Homo sapiens: one gene and its partners. The protein of the gene in region 1 interacts with the protein of each later gene in a biochemical or structural test. Each region holds a gene or a part of one and is shown in the gene's direction. Other genes may lie near its edges.

Region 1 (2,660 bases):
AGCCTCTCCTCCCCTGCACCTAGTGCTAAGACTTTTCCTTGAAAGGGCAGAAGCCAGCTCCTCTCCCGAATCCCAGAATCTGACATTCCAGGACTCCACTAGGCCTGTTTTCCTCTGTGGGAACTAGAGCCAAGGCGAGAGACCCGTGCCAGCCCCGAGGCTCCCGGGGCCCATGGGCCCAGGCATCGGGCTGGTACAGGGCCCCGGGGCTCTCTCAGCCCATCTGTCACCCCTCCCCCCCAACACCCAGATGTCCCGTCTTGGCAGTGCTGTCCCGGACTGCCACATTAATGCTCCAGAACCCGCCAGCTGGGCCCTGGGGCCGGTGGGGCTCCTGCAGAGCCCTGGACAAAGGCGAGGGAGGGAGGGAAGGGGATCCTAAGCACCCCTCCCTCCCTGGCCCTAGGAGGCAGACATGCCCGATGAGATCAACATTGATGAATTGTTGGAGTTAGAGAGTGAAGAGGAGAGAAGCCGGAAAATCCAGGTAGGTGGGGGGACGTGTCCCCCAGCCTCCCACTTTGCACCTCCCTAAAAATAATAGCAATAGTTCACGTGTTTACTGAGTGCTCACTAGATGCCGGGCACTGGTGTGATGGCTTTACATGTATTCACTCACTTAACCCTCACAAAACCCTCCGAAGCAGGCGCTAGTGTGAGCTCCATTTTCCCCATGAGGAAAATGAGGCCCAGAGAGGTTGAATCCCTTGCCCAGTGTCACACAGCTCAGAAGGAGCAGAGCTGGGCATCGAACCCAGGCAGTTTGGCAGCCATGTCTTTGCTTATGGCTTATACCTTTTTAGAGGAGGGAAGTGCTGTGTGACCCTCTCGCCCTCTCTGGATCTAGTAACTCACCCCTGCCCTGAGTCGATCCACATGCCCCTTGGGCTCTGTTCCTCTCTTGAAGCTTGGTGGGCAGTCCACCCTGGAGTCTGACTTCCATTTGTCTTGCTGCTGGGGCCTTTTGGGAAAGGGAAGGGGCTGGAGGGGAGTAGGTGTTAGTCATTTACTGTTTTGTTTTGTTCTTGGTTGGGGGTTTTAGGGACTCCTGAAGTCATGTGGGAAACCTGTCGAGGTGAGTTTTCTCTCCCTCATTCTCTCCCTGTTCTGGCCCCAAGTACTCTGATGGGGGAGGGGGAAGAAGCTGGCAGAAGGGTCTCTGGGGAACACCACCCGGCCCCACCACCCCCGGCCCCAACCTGCCCTCCGCAGCTCTTTCTGGTCTCCAGGGGTGTCTTTTGTCCTCCTACTTGTCTCTCTCCCTCTCTCCCCCATCTGCTGAGGGGGCTCCATTCTGTCCTCCCCCATCTGCCCTGTTTTTGCCTCTCCTGTGCCTGTCCTTTGGCCACCAGCCTTCGGGCTCAGTCTCCCTCTGTCCTCCCCTGTCACTGCCTCCGCCACCCCGGGCTCCCTTCCCCACCTCTGGGGGCCCTCCATCCTCCCAGGCCCTGAAGCTGAGCGGCCCAACCCCTCCCACTTCCTTCCCTGCTTTAAAAGGGAAAACTATTCATGTTTCTCCAACTAGCTCTAGGGACAAACGTCATTGCATTTCTGTTCGCCCTGGATCTATCTCTGGGGACCTGTCTCCACATGTCTCTGTTTCTTTCTCTGTCCTTATGTCTCTCTCTGTCTCTATCTCTACATGTCTCTCTGTTTCTGTGTCTGTTTCTCCCCCTCCCCCACTCCGTATCTGTCTCCTTGGATCTCTATCTCTCTTCCTAGCTCTTTCTCTCCATCCCTCCCATCGCCCTTTCCCCATCTCTGTCTTTCTCCCGGCTCACTTTTCTCTCTATGTCTATAGCCTCCGCCCCTAACTCCCCCCACCCCACAATCAGAGAACAGGAGGAGGCGCCCAGGTCAGGGACTGGGCTGGACAGGGGCAGAGGGTGCCCCCGCACTGTTCCCATGTTCTCAGCTCCCCCACCCTGTCTCAGGACTTCATCCAGGAGCTGCTGGCAAAGCTTCAAGGCCTCCACAGGCAGCCCGGCCTCCGCCAGCCAAGCCCCTCCCACGACGGCAGCCTCAGCCCCCTCCAGGACCGGGCCCGGACTGCTCACCCCTGACCCTCTTGCACTCTCCCTGCCCCCCGGACGCCGCCCAGCTTGCTTGTGTATAAGTTGTATTTAATGGTTCTGTAACAATAACACTGTGTGGCTGTTTTTCCTCCCCCCGGGTTACCATGGGCTTCCCCGAGCTCCCCCCACAACCTCCCTCTCTCCTCCTGTGGCCTCTGCTCATGTCCCTGTCCCAGCACTGCAGCTGGGCCTGCCAGATGGAGAATCACTCCTCCCGGGCCAGAAAGCATGAGAACGGGCCCTGCTGAGCCCACGCCCTTGGGATTTATATCCTAGACCTTGCCTTCCCTTGAACTCCCCACCCCACCCCCATCCCCAGTCCCAGCAAGCAGGGCCCCTATATGCAGGCTCCTGCAGGAATCTGGGTCAAGGGGCATGCTCATGACCAAAGGTGACCGATATTGACTCAGTACAGGTGATCACACAGCAAACAAATCATTCAGCCACTCCATGAAATCTGCGCTGTGCTTATAATGGCCCTTGGTACTGAGGCTGCAAAGATGAGAGGAAGATGGTCTCTGGCATCAAGGTGCTCACACACTATGGGGGGAGAAGGGCCTGAGTGTGAGAATCAGAACAAAGTGT
Region 2 (2,920 bases), on another chromosome or scaffold:
GATCAAGAGTGATGGGGAGACCTGGCGTGGTGGCTCATGCCTATAATCCCAGCACTTTGGGAGGCCGAGGCAGATGGATCACTTGAGGTCAGGAGTTTGAGACTAGCCTGGCCAACATGGCAAAACCCCATCTCTACTAAAAATACAAAAAAAAAAAGCCTGGTGTGGTGATGCACACCTCTAATCCCTGCTACTCAGGAGGCTGAAGTAGAAGGATTGCTTGAACCTAGGAGGTGGAGATTGCAGTGAGCCGAGATTGCGTCATGCGCTCCAGCCTGGGCAACTGAGTTAGACTTTGTCTCAAAAAAAAAAAAAAAAAAGTGATAGAGAAATATCATTGATTAAGGTAAGAGCAGTGAGATGTGTGATACTCACTTAGAAATGATCTTTGCAGCGTTTGTTTATACAGATATAAAATACTCAACTTTTAAAAACATACAGTGCACTTAATCACTAACAGCCTACTAGGCTGTTGGACACCAGGCACCCAGAGGTAAAGCCGTTCCTTCAATGGTCAGCCCCCTGCCAGCGCCCCTGGGATTAGGGAGAGCATGGCCTTCAGAGGCTGGAGCCTGTAGTCCTAACTGCACAGCTGGTCCAGCAGGGCGTAACGCATCTACCTAGAGAGTAAAATGACCAACAGTTGTTCCCTAAGCTCAGCACTTGCAAGAAATCTTTTGGGAAGATCTCTTCAAATGTCTAGAACTCTGCGCAAACAATAGGTAGGACAAGTGTGAACCTACCCAACCTCTGTTGACAAATACAGCTGCACACCCCTCAGCGAGGCCTGCTGTGAAATGCCACCTTGGTGAAATGAGAATAAAGGGTGAGTGAGCCAGCTGCTTTTGGATGACCAAATTAATTCTTAGCCTCCCATTAAGACAGGCCTGCTCAGCAAGATTTTCATGGGATTAGTGAATTGGTGGTTGCCAAATGCCATAATAATGCACCATGCAGTAGACTTGCTGTAAAGCACAGTTTCATCATAACAATAACTGTAAATAATGCTACTGAACAAGCTACAGAGCACTCCTCTGAACTCACTGGAATGGGCTATATCCCATGCAAGATGAGTAAGCCTCAAGCGCAAAAATCTCACCCTTGTTTCCCTTTTTTTTTTGGCAGAAATCCCGAGAAGATGTCAGTAATTTTGACCCTGACTTCATAAAGGAAGAGCCAGTTTTAACTCCAATTGATGAGGGACATCTTCCAATGATTAACCAGGATGAGTTTAGAAACTTTTCCTATGTGTCTCCAGAATTGCAACCATAGCCTTATGGGGAGTGAGAGAGAGGGCACGAGAACCCAAAGGGAATAGAGATTCTCCAGGAATTTCCTCTATGGGACCTTCCCAGCATCAGCCTTAGAACAAGAACCTTACCTTCAAGGAGCAAGTGAAGAACTCTGTGAAGGATGGAACTTTCAGATATCAACTATTTAGAGTCCAGAGGGAGCCATGGCACTAGAAATAGTTGATAATGAAATGAGATTTTATGAAGTATACCGCTCCACCTATGAGCGTCTGTCTCTGTGGGCTTGGGATGTTAACAGGAGCCAAAAGGAGGGAAAGTGTGAAGAATAAAGTAGATCTGAGAAATTCTGAGCCAATCAGGCTTCTTAATTCAAGAGACAAACCAAGACGTTCTGTCAACTGTGCTGTGCTCTTCTTTAAGCCAATGAACCCCAATTCCTGGCAGTCTACAAGAAGTCTCTTAATGCTAATGAAGAATTTAAAGGTCTTTTTAAGGAAATGAAGGGCTTTCCAAATAGAATGATTTACTCTGAAGAAACAAACAATGGTATCTCTGAAACTCACAACCTAAAGCCCAATCTTGAAAATATGTTGTGCACCAAGACGACTGCTTCAGCTTCTTCTCTTATCCTTACTTTCTTTAATAGATATTTATTAAACTGTCCAGTGAAAAGGTGCCACAATGCCCAGTATTGTAAACAACAGGTTTGCATTCATGAAGCTTTCATTCATTCTGGAGTCTACTAATTTACCTGAATGGTGTTTGCATTCTGTGAAATGCCTCTCCACGTTGCATATGTCACACTTTTGTCTGCACATAACTCTTTTTTCACAAGAAGGGTCACTGCCACAACAGCACAGTCAGCGGGTGAATTACAGGTGCCTGCTGCCTGCCTACCTGGGTAATCTGATCTTGTCTGTATCGCCGTGTGCTCATCACTGAAGAATTGCAGGCCACTCATGTCAGTGACCAGATTTGTGGCTTATAAACATTAGCAGTTTATTTATGTTTTAAGATGCAAAGATGTGTGTTTGATATTCACTTTAATAATTAGAAATGGATCTTGTAAACAGGGCATATATCAAAGATGACCTTATAATATGTACCCGAATATACAGTTCAAGAATTTTGTCTGACTGGAAATAAATGCATTTTGTAGCAAAAGGAAGTGTTTTGACTAGAATGATTTGTCTCCTTCCCACTAAGACAGTAGATTTCCAATCAAAATAAAACCTTGAGCAGAATGGGTAGAACTCAACTCACAGAAAATTCCTGAGAGGAGAGGTTGATGTAAGTTCTTCTGTGATTCTCTGAAGTAGATGTGGCCTGTCTCTTACTGACCAAAACTTCTGTCCTGAATGAGGGTGATGACTGCTAAGCATAGCTGTAACAGACCAACCCTCAAGATCTCAGGGGCTAGACACCATAAATGTTTATTTCTCATTCACATAAAGTAGCATGTAAGTTCAACAATCTTCCTCCATCTTATAACTACACTATCTGGAAAATGTAGCTTTCCAAAGTCTCCAGAGCAAGGAAGAGACATGGAGGGGGCGCCGGCTGCCTGCCTGCCTCTCCTAGGAGGGACACACCTCACCTCTTCTCACAATGACTGGCTAAAACATGGCTTCCCTCTAACTACAGACGGGATAGGGGAATTATAGAGC
Region 3 (3,522 bases), on another chromosome or scaffold:
GCCTGCCCGACATGGTGAAGCCCCATCTTTACTAAAAATACAAAAATTAGCCGGGTGAGGTGGTGCTCACCTTTAATCCCAGCGACTCGGGAGGCTGAGGCAGGAGAATCTCTTGAACCTGGGAAGCGGAGGTTGCAGTCAGCTGAGATCCCCCCAGTGCACTCCAACCTGGGTGACAATGAGGCTCTGTCTCAAAAGAGAAAAACAAAGAATTCAAGTAATCTGCCAGGTGCAATGGCTCACACCTATAATCCTAGCACTTTGGGAGGCCGATGGGGGTGGATCACCTGAGGCCAGGAGCTCGAGACCAGCCTGGCCAACATGGTGAAACCCCGTCTCTGCTACAAATACAAAAATTAGCTGGGTATGGTGGCAGGCGCCTGTAATCCCAGCTACTCAGGAGGCCGAGGCAGGAGAATTGCTTGAACCTGCGAGACGGAGGTTGCAGTGAGCCGAGATTGCACCACTGCACTCCAGCCTGGGCAACAAGAGCAAAACATGGTCTCAAAAAAAAAAAGAGAGAATTCAGGTAATCTTTTAACCCCAGAAAAGTGTCTTCCCCAGGTACCAGTCAGACATCTTATTCCCAAACTTCCAGTTGAATATTTACTCTTACTTGTTTTTAGGAAGTACCTCCTCTTATGAGTATTCCCCTAGATAACTGACAGCTTGATTTCATGTTTCAGTTTTCATGCTGCCTTTTTCATCTATAATAAGAAATATTTTAGAAGCTGCCACACTTGAGGAAATATTCGTTGTGTAAAGAAATGCTGTCACTGTCTTAAAAAGTTAGTAGGTTATATAACTGGACTCTGTTATTAAAGGATTAACATAAAATATTTTATGTGTTCCAGGACCCTGAACCATCAATATGACTACACATTTGATTGGACAATGTTAAAGCAGAAAGCAGCACAGCAGGCAGCCTCTTCCAGTGGGCAGGGTCAGCAGGCCCAAACCCCCACAGGCAAGCAAACTGACAAAACCAAGAGTAACATGAAAGGTTAGTAGCCAAGAACCAAGTGACGTTACAGGGAAAAAATTGAATACAAAATTGGGTAATTCATTTCTAACAGTGTTAGATCAAGGAGGTGGTTTTAAAATACATAAAAATTTGGCTCTGCGTTAAAAAAAAAAAGACGTCCTTGGAAAATTTGACTACTAACTTTAAACCCAAATGTCCTTGTTCATATATATGTATATGTATTTGTATATACATATATGTGTGTATATTTATATCATTTCTCTTGGGATTTTGGGTCATTTTTTTAACAACTGCATCTTTTTTACTCATTCATTAACCCCCTTTCCAAAAATTTGGTGTTGGGAATATAATATAATCAATCAATCCAAAATCCTAGACCTAACACTTGTTGATTTCTAATAATGAATTTGGTTAGCCATATTTTGACTTTATTTCAGACTAACAATGTTAAGATTTTTTATTTTGCATGTTAATGCTTTAGCATTTAAAATGGAAAATTGTGAACATGTTGTAATTTCAAGAGGTGAGTTTGGCATTACCCCCAAAGTGTCTATCTTCTCAGTTGCAGAGCATCTCATTTTCTCTCTTAAATGCTCAAATAAATGCAAAGCTCAGCACATCTTTTCTAGTCACAAAAATAATTCTTTTATTTGCAGTTTACGTATGATCTTAATTTCAAAACGATTTCTTTGTTTTTGGCTTGATTTTTCACAATGTTGCAAATATCAGGCTCCCAGGGTTTAATGTGGAATTGAAGTCTGCAGCCAGGCCTTGCAAATTGAAGGTAACTGGGGCAAATGCCATTGAAACCGCTAGTCTTATTTCCTTTCTACTTTTCTTTGGCACTCTTACTGCCTGTAAGGAGTAGAACTGTTAGGGCACACTGTTGCTATACAGTTTAACTCCCATTTTCATGTTTTGTCTTTCTTTTCCCATTTCTGGGGCTTACCTCCTGATACCTGCTTACTTTCTGGAAGTAGTGGGCAAGTAAGATTTGGCTCTTGGTTTCTAATTTTTAAATTTCTGAATACTGCCCTAGTCTGAACTTGGCCTTTATAGATTAATCTTTGCTTCACATTTTTAGTGTTGTATTTAAACTATTTTATAATTTAAAAATAGATTCTAATCTGAAGATACTTTTCAAGAAATATTATTAACTGATGTCATCCTCATCCCAGCAGCTCATCTGTTAGGAATGAAGTTGAGATGCTTCTATTCCATGTTTTTGTATTTGGGAAGGATTCAAAGTTGAAGGTTTATTGTCGTTGGGTTTTTCAGATGGTGACATGTAAACTCAGGATAGCAAACCCTAATGTTCACACAGTGCTCTGCCTCTGCATCTCAGTTGGGATAGTTGCTCCTTTTGAGTGTTTTAATCATCGTATAACTAATCATAGTGCCAAGAAGTTCATAATGTGTTATGTAGCTAATGTCACTGAAAAACAGTCCTACCATTTTAGGTAAGACCAAACAGAGTCTCTAACCCAAGGACTTGTTACACCTGACAACCTATAGTATATTTGCTTTTTCTCACAAAATGAAACCAATTTTGCCGAAAGCTAGCTGGGATAATAGGATCATCACAAGTTGCAGTTTCTATAACTAAAATTAGATTGAAATCTCTTCTGACCTAGAACATTTTACTTCAGGCATTCAGCAGATTTCAGAAAGAATTACCTTATTTTAAGTTAGTTTCTTTGTTAGTTTACTGTGTGTCTCTTATTCAATAAACAAGCAGAATTTGTGTCCTGCCCTATCCATGTCTTAAAGATGAGAAGTTGGATCCACTGAGTTAGTTTCATTGGGGCGGGGGAAAGAACTGTAATTAAACTTGTTTAATCCTTATTTTGTATTGTAGCTATTTTTTGTAAAAGCAACTTAAAATCTTTTAAAAATTTTATAGTGACATTAGAGACAATGGTCATACAAATTATCACATAAACATGGACTTGAAAAATTAGGCTTTTCATAAAACACATCACATGTCATTGACTGCTTTTTAGAAATACACTTCCAAGGCAGTACATCTGTATTGCTACTGAAAAGTGCCATTTCACAGAACACAGACTTCTTTTTGCTCTTTGACATCTTGAAAACATCTGTTTTTCTTTTTTAATACAAAACTTTGTGCTCAAGACAAATCTTACATGAAACTCTCATAAACCATGAAAATGTAGCTGGCCTTCGGGCCTTAGGCATGAAATAAGCATGAGGAACATATTCCCCTAACTTCTACCCCCAGCCCAGCAAGTTATCCTTTAAGAAATCTCCTAGGAATTCTGGAGTTTGAAAACAATTGCTCTATGTTATTCCTGCTTCCAGTCTCTAAGTAACAAGGGCATTTAAAAGCATAGTCTCTTAAGGTCCACTATAGTGGTTCTTTATTTAAGGAATAACTCAGCTGGGTGCAGTGGCTCACGCCTGTTATCCCAGCACTTTGAGAGGCTGAGGCAAGCAGATCACTTGAGGCCAGGAGTTCGAGAGTCTGGCCAACATGGTGGAAACCCATCTCTACAAAAAATACAAAAATTAGCCAG
Region 4 (3,522 bases), on another chromosome or scaffold:
TCATAACAAGATGTATACACATACAGAAGAATGCCATAAGTATCACTATGCCTACTTCGAATCCGTGGAACGCTAAGAGAATTTATGATTGAAATTTGGTTAGTGGTGTTTCACGATTGTTATCATTTTTCTTTTTCTGTAGGAGTTGGCGATTTCAGCGTGTGGGAGTTCTCTGGAAATCCTGTGTATTTCTGCTGTTATGACTATTTTGCTGCAAATGATCCCACGTCAATCCATGTTGTTGTCTTTAGTCTAGAAGAGCCCTATGAGATCCAGCTGAACCAAGTGATTTTCTGGCTCAGTTTCCTGAAGTCCCTTGTCCCAGTTGAAGAACCCATAGGTGAGCTAAGTCCCTGCAGGCCAGTGATGTCCTACCTGTGGTTGGCCAGGAATCGCCTCCTCCTTCCAGGCTTCTGCCCTGCTCCTGCCACTGCTGCTGCTGGCCTTGCACCAGGCCATGAGCAGATCCCACCGTTTGTGGCTAACAGCTGAGCCAACTTCCTTTCTCCTTCCTGCTGGGAGACTTCCACTCTGAGAAGCTTCATGAGGCTCAAGTGTTCGTGGTATTCTGCAGGCTGTTTTTGTTTCATGATTGCATATTCCTGCCTCAAAGGCCCACTTTGAACAATCCTTTGAGAGGCATTTCTCACTTTTTTTCTACACTTGAGAGCCATGGTCATTGTATGTTGGGTGCAAAATGGAATCCCTGCTTGGATAGCTACTGCACCTTTACCTAAAGGGTACAGAATTAGTCAGCAGAATGAGCAGTTCTTCATCCTGTAATTCCACTAAGAAACAAAGAAAGAGGCCGGGTGCAGTGGTTCACGGCTGTAATCCTAGCACTGTGGGAAGCCAAGGTGGGCAGATGCCTTGAGCTCAGGAGTTCAAGACCAGCCTGGCCCACATGGCAAAACCTCATCTCTACAAAACATACAAAAACTTAGCCAGGTGTGGTGGCATGTGCCTGTAGTCCCAGCTACTTCAGGGGCTGAGGCAGGAGGATTGCTTGAACCTGGGAGGCTGTGGCTGCAGTGAGCCAAGATCGTGCCACTGCACTTAGCCTGGGTGACACAGTGAGACCCTGTCTCAAAAAAAAAGAGAGAGAAATGAAGAAAGGGAGCATGTTGACTGAATGTGTTATCTTAACTTTATTCCTAGAGGAGAGGATAACATGAAATAAACTTCCTTTGGTCTTTGCCCACAACAAGAGAAGCAGCCTTCCCTGGTGAAATGCAATACTCAGCAGTCAATTTTTTTTCTTTCCGGAAAAGCATATAATACAAGGAGTTGGGCTTAATGCCCCTCTGGGTACTGCCAGTTTTGCCTCTTTCTTTGTCCTTTTTTTCCTTTGTTTTAAACACTCCCCGAAGTGGGAGGCTCTTTGTGTGACTTGCAGGTCATTTACCTCTGACCCATCTCTGTGGTGTTGCTGCACTCAGGCGTCTCTCTTTGGTCTTGTAAGCGGCATCCCTTTTGTCACAGGTTAAATTTTCCCTCTCCTTGTAAGTAGGGGCTATTTGGAGACTTGAGAAACTGCCTTTAGTCATTCTGGTCCACTTTGAGCAATTTTCCTTGTGGCCTAGGAGATAGGCTTATCCTGTCGTTGGCCATGCTGGGGCCTTCTAGGGTCACAGTGCACAGCAGGCGTGGGGCCTTCATCTCTGTGGCATGTTGCACTTGTACCTGGAGAGTCGGCCTGGGCATGAGGCCAACACACCGCCCTCACCTGGGCAGGAGAGGCAGCCAGGTAGGAGGACCCACCCCCTGAAGCAGTTCCCTCTCTGCCCCCAGCCTTCGGTGGCAAGCTGAAGAACCCACTCCAAGTTGTCCTGGTGGCCACCCACGCTGACATCATGAATGTTCCTCGACCGGCTGGAGGCGAGTTTGGATATGACAAAGACACATCGTTGCTGAAAGAGATTAGGAACAGGTGAGGGGCAGCCACTTAGTCTCCAGCTCACGGGTAGCCTCCTCTCCCTGAGAACTGAAGCAGAGGTGTGAAAAGTACAAAGGAAGTCTCATGAACCAGAGAAAGGTTTTAAAGGTCTTTCTTTCTTGGTCAACTCTTTTCTTGTACAGGTCTTGTATCCCTTATTGGAAATGATCGGCTTTAGAAGTGTTTCTGATTTCTTATTTGTTTGGATTTTAATATATGTACATATACATAGCAGTTGAACATCCTAGTTCAAAAATTCTAAATCTGAAATGCTCTAATAACCATTTCCTTTGCATGTCTTGTCTTTGCCCAAAAGGTTTTTGGATTTTGGAACATTTCAGATTTCTGGATTAGGGATGCACAACCTTTATTTTTCATTTTTATTAAAACAATGAATCCACATAGTAAATCAAATACAAATGAAGAGCACGTGATGAAAGCAACCCCCTTCTTTCTACCTCCCAGCAACACTGCCCGGAGGTGACTTCTTTTAGCTGTTTAGATTTCAGTACTCAGTATTCAGTGTTCAGAAACACTAATCAGTATGTCTTACAATATAAGTTGCAACCTACTAGTGAGTCTTAAAATTCATTTAGGAAGTCGTGGCCAATTCTTTTTAAAATGGGATGGAATGGAATGGGATAGGATAGGACAGGAAAGGACAGGACAGGATAGGATAGATCAGATGTCAAGTATTATTTTGTAAAACGTTTGTTTCACTGATGAGTATGGGTATGTACAGGATTATGATGTAAAATATATGTTTTTACTCAGAGTCTATCAAAACAGTTTGAACCTGCAGCTTTCTATAATATGCTAGTATCTCTGATCTTGCATTATCAACTTGAGACATTTATCTATTGTCTTGAGACACTATATCTGTTGCCAGATATAAAAATGGGGCTTCTATTAATATTTTTAGGTCAGTGATGTAGCTTTTGCATTCACACCTCTATTCTTAGTCCCTCCACTTTCCACAGTATCTCTTGTCCTCACTTGTAAGGTGCGAGCATTAGGCCTCACCTTTCCTGCCTCGGGAGAAGCTGACATCTTTCCATGCTGTGCTCCTGCTGCTTCATGCAAACCTGAAGGTCCCGCTCCTATGACTCAGACTATATGCCAGTTTCCCCAAGTCTCTGCACCCACTGTGATGAGGCAGAGCCCACCAACAGCAGGGATGGGGAGGGGCCTTTGCAAGGACACCAGAACTTTCCTTCCCTCCTACCAGCCTCTTGAGCCAGTAGGAGCCTGGCCCCTCCATTAAAAGGCCTGGGGACATTGACTCACTGCTGAGGAGGCTGCTGCTCTTCCCTTAGGTTTGGAAATGATCTTCACATTTCAAATAAGCTGTTTGTTCTGGATGCTGGGGCTTCTGGGTCAAAGGACATGAAGGTACTTCGAAATCATCTGCAAGAAATACGAAGCCAGATTGTTTCGGTAAGTACACCATGGAAAGAGCCTGGACCCCTTTGTACTTCCTTCCTGGTTTGCCTCTGGTTTCAGGGAACTGCTTCATAGTAGGACCCAGTAAGAGGTGTCTGCCTGGACATGTCTTTATCCTAGTGCCCTGGGAAAAGAAAGGAAGA
Region 5 (3,522 bases), on another chromosome or scaffold:
TTGAACCCAAGAGGCGGAGGTTGCAGTGAGCTGAGACCACGCCACTGCATTCCGGCCTGAGCAACAGAGCAAGACTCTGTCTCAAAAAAAAAAAAAAAAGTTATGTTATTTTAAAAGAAGGGGAGGCTGGGCGTGGTGGCTCACACCTGTAATGCCAGCACTTTGAGAGGCCAAGGCAGGCAGATCACGAGGTCAGGAGATCGAGACTATCCTGGCCAACATGGCGAAATCCCATCTCTACTAAAAATTTAAAAATTAGCTAGGTGTGGTGGTACGTGCCTGTAATCCCAGCTACTTGGGAGGCCGAGGCACGAGAATCACTTGAACTCAGGAGGTGGAGGTTGCATTGAGCTGAGATCGTGCCACTGCACTCCAGCCTGGCAACAGAGCGAGACTCTGTCTCAAAAAAAAAAAAAAAGAAAAGAAAAGAAAAAGAAAAAAAGAAGGGGAGAGGCATCCCTGTAATCTTAGCACTTGGGAGGTCAAAGCAGGAGGATCAGTTGAGCCCAGAAATTCAAGACCAGCCTGGACAACATAGTGGGAGCTCATCTCTGGAAAAAATTTAAGAAACTAGCCCGATGTGGTGTCATGTGCCTGTGCTCCCAGCTGTTTGGGAGGCTGAGGCAGGAGGATTGCTTGGTCCCAGGAGGTCGAGGCTGCAGTGAGCCATGGTCATACCACTGCCCTCCAGCCTGGGTGACACAGTGAGACACTGTCTCAAAAGAAAAAAGGAGAGGGAGAATGGATATTGGGCATGCAAACAACAGGCGCTGCCACAACCTGCTTTGAAGAATATAATATTTATATTAGGAAAATAACATTTTAGTGGCATTAAATCCTTATATAGGACATAAATTTAAAAGATCCCCAAACTGCATTTACCATGTGTCTGATTAATAAAAGCAGTAAATCTCTAGGACAGAGTGTTCTGCTTTGGATGTCTCAGCAGGAGTCATTGGAAACAACTAGTTGGGTTTTATATATTTTTAAAAAGCTGAAAAATGACTTCTTCAAAACAACCGGGAAAAAAAGACTCTTTGGGGCCTGGTGTGGTGGCTCACGCCTGTAATCCCAGCACTTCGGGAGGCTGAGGCGGGCGGATCACCTGAGGTCAGGAGTTTGAGGCCAGCCTGGCCAACATGGGGGAACGCTGTCTCTACTAAAAATACAAAAATTAGCTGGGCGTGGTGGTGTGCACCTGTAATCCCAGCTACTCAGGAGGCTGAGGCAGGAGAATGGCTTGAACTCGGGAGGCGGAGGTTGCAGTGAGTCGAGATGGCGCCAGTGCACTCCAGCCTGGGCTACAGAGTGAAACTCCATGTAAAAAAAAAAAAAAAAAAAAACACTTCAAATTAAATCCTTTTCTCTTTTGGAGATAGGGAGAATCAAGACAACAACAAAAACAATTGAACAGATATTTATTGAACTAGCAGGAGTAACATATGTTAGAGGATACAAGCTAGGAATAAACATATTTAAAGAAAATGTTCAAGTTGTTTAGGATTTAGGCCGGGCATGGTAGCTCTCGCCTGTAATCCCAGCATTTTGGGAGGCTGAGGTGGATGGATCACTTGAAGTCGGGAGTTCGAGAGCAGCCTGGCCAACATGGCAAAACCCTGTCTCTCCAAAAAATGCAAAAAAAAATTGGTGGACACCATGCCTGTAATCTCAGCTACTTGGGAGGCTGAGGCGCAAGAATTGCTTGAACCCAGGAGGCGGAGGTTACAGTGGGCCAAGATTGCGCCACTATACTCCAGCCTGGGTGACAGAATGAGACTCTGTCTAAAAAAAAAAAAAAGTTGTTTAGGATTTAATGAATCAAGATAGACTAATACAATATATGAAATAGTTATTAATTCCAAATATGTGAGACCTACCCTCGAGAGAAGTATGTGTTAGATGTACATCTGTCTATATCCCACCCATAGAAATAAAAAGGGAATGGGGCTGGACACAGTAGCTCATGCCTGTATTCCCAGCACTTTGGGAGGCCAAGGAGGGAGGATTGCTTGAGCTTGGGAGTTGTTCAGGACCAGCCTGAGTAACATAGTGAGACCCCATCTCTATAAAAAATCAAAAATTTAGTCTGGTGTGGTAGAGCGAGCCTACAGTCCCAGCTGCTACTTGGGAGGCTGAGCTGGGAAGATCGCGTTAGTCCGGGAGGCAGAGATTGCGAGCCGAGATCTTACCACTGCACTCCAGCCTGGGTAACACTGAGACCTTGTCTCAAGTTAAAACACTTAGAGGCAGAAGCAAACAATAATCTACAACATATGCAACTGTAGACCACTATATACATAAATATATAAGATGGGAATGTTTCTGCTCTGTGAAACCAGATAATTTTTTAAGTGTTCTATAATCTTTTTTTTTTTTTTTTGAGATGGAGTCTCGCTCTGTCACCCAGGCTGGAGTGCAGTGGCGCCATCTCAGCTCACTGCAACCTCCGCCTCCTGAGTTCAAACGATTCTCCTGTCTCAGCCTCCTGAGTAGCTGGGACTATAGGTGCGTGCCACCATGCCCAGCTAATTTTTGTATTTTCAGTAGAGACAGTTTCACCATGTTGGCCAGGCTGGTCTCAAACTCTTGACCTTGTGATCCACTCACCTCAGCCTCCCAAAGTGCTGGACTTACAGGCATGAGCCACTGCGCCTGGCGTCTGTAATCCTATTTAATATCTACTATTCTCATGGTACCAGTTATATATTTAGTGAATGCCTCATATTTACAATGCACTTTATAAAGGAAATTCATTCACAATTTGCCACTTAGGTGAGAAAGTCTGGATTTTGGCTTCTTAATAGTTATGAATTTCAAATCTGGGGAAAACCCAGCCTTGTGTTTTTTCCCCCTTTTCCTTTCATCAGCACTTATCAGCAACCAAACACTAAGTGTCTGTTGACTTTTCTCCAGCTGATAAAAAACAAAAAACTATAGAGACTCCCTGTGAAAAGAGGGCCAGTTGTGCTGGCCTGGGGCCAGGCTGCACGCTCTGTGACCTTGCCTCTTCAGTCTGAGTTGTCCATAGGGCAACAGTTCCAAATAGCCCATGTGGCTATGGCAGTAAGCATAGAGAGTGCTCATGAACCAGATAATGTAACAAGTTATGTTAGCCTGGCCTTTGAGCTCAGTGAGCCATCCTTTGAGCCTTTTATGATACTGCACTTTCAGGCATCCTTTTGGGAAGATCCAATGGATCAGGGACCATTCTCTATCTTATAGCAGTGGAAATGTTTTTGGCACTGTGGTATTAAATAACTACTCATTTGAACGTATTGTGCAATGACTTAGCCTTTCCCATCATTATTAGTTCCCATTGAAGCTGTTGTGCTCAGTTTGAGTTTCCAGTAGGGACTATGAAAGAAAATGGAAATCTCACAAATTGTACTTTTAAAAATATTTTATTCAGTGCTAATACTGTTATCTCATATTTTGGCTTTTGTGTCTCCCACTGTATACCCCCATTTCCCCTCTGCTTTCAGGTGAAGGTCTCCCACAGGTGTATTACTTTGGACCATGTGG

Evidence for each region.
Region 2: the proteins of PPP1R14A (region 1) and PRKCH form a complex in vitro, tested with the Homo sapiens proteins (one study listed by BioGRID).
Region 3: the proteins of PPP1R14A (region 1) and CSNK1A1 form a complex in vitro, tested with the Homo sapiens proteins (one study listed by BioGRID).
Region 4: the proteins of PPP1R14A (region 1) and DAPK1 form a complex in vitro, tested with the Homo sapiens proteins (one large-scale study listed by BioGRID and IntAct).
Region 5: the proteins of PPP1R14A (region 1) and CSNK1G1 form a complex in vitro, tested with the Homo sapiens proteins (one study listed by BioGRID).

Annotation. Positions count from the first base shown.
Region 1 is NC_000019.10:38,250,721-38,253,380, reverse strand, and holds the end of PPP1R14A (protein phosphatase 1 regulatory subunit 14A), read left to right. Parts: intron 1-406; coding exon 407-487; intron 488-1,042; coding exon 1,043-1,075; intron 1,076-1,934; coding exon 1,935-2,063; 3' UTR 2,064-2,144; downstream 2,145-2,660. UniProt on the Homo sapiens protein: Inhibitor of PPP1CA. Has over 1000-fold higher inhibitory activity when phosphorylated, creating a molecular switch for regulating the phosphorylation status of PPP1CA substrates and smooth muscle contraction.
Region 2 is NC_000014.9:61,548,560-61,551,479, forward strand, and holds the end of PRKCH (protein kinase C eta type), read left to right. Parts: intron 1-1,125; coding exon 1,126-1,272; 3' UTR 1,273-2,417; downstream 2,418-2,920. UniProt on the Homo sapiens protein: Calcium-independent, phospholipid- and diacylglycerol (DAG)-dependent serine/threonine-protein kinase that is involved in the regulation of cell differentiation in keratinocytes and pre-B cell receptor, mediates regulation of epithelial tight junction integrity and foam cell formation, and is required for glioblastoma proliferation and apoptosis prevention in MCF-7 cells.
Region 3 is NC_000005.10:149,502,928-149,506,449, reverse strand, and holds part of CSNK1A1 (casein kinase I isoform alpha), read left to right. Parts: intron 1-854; coding exon 855-1,003; intron 1,004-3,522.
Region 4 is NC_000009.12:87,696,865-87,700,386, forward strand, and holds part of DAPK1 (death-associated protein kinase 1), read left to right. Parts: intron 1-142; coding exon 143-340; intron 341-1,791; coding exon 1,792-1,930; intron 1,931-3,252; coding exon 3,253-3,373; intron 3,374-3,522. UniProt on the Homo sapiens protein: Calcium/calmodulin-dependent serine/threonine kinase involved in multiple cellular signaling pathways that trigger cell survival, apoptosis, and autophagy.
Region 5 is NC_000015.10:64,216,674-64,220,195, reverse strand, and holds part of CSNK1G1 (casein kinase I isoform gamma-1), read left to right. Parts: intron 1-3,482; coding exon 3,483-3,522.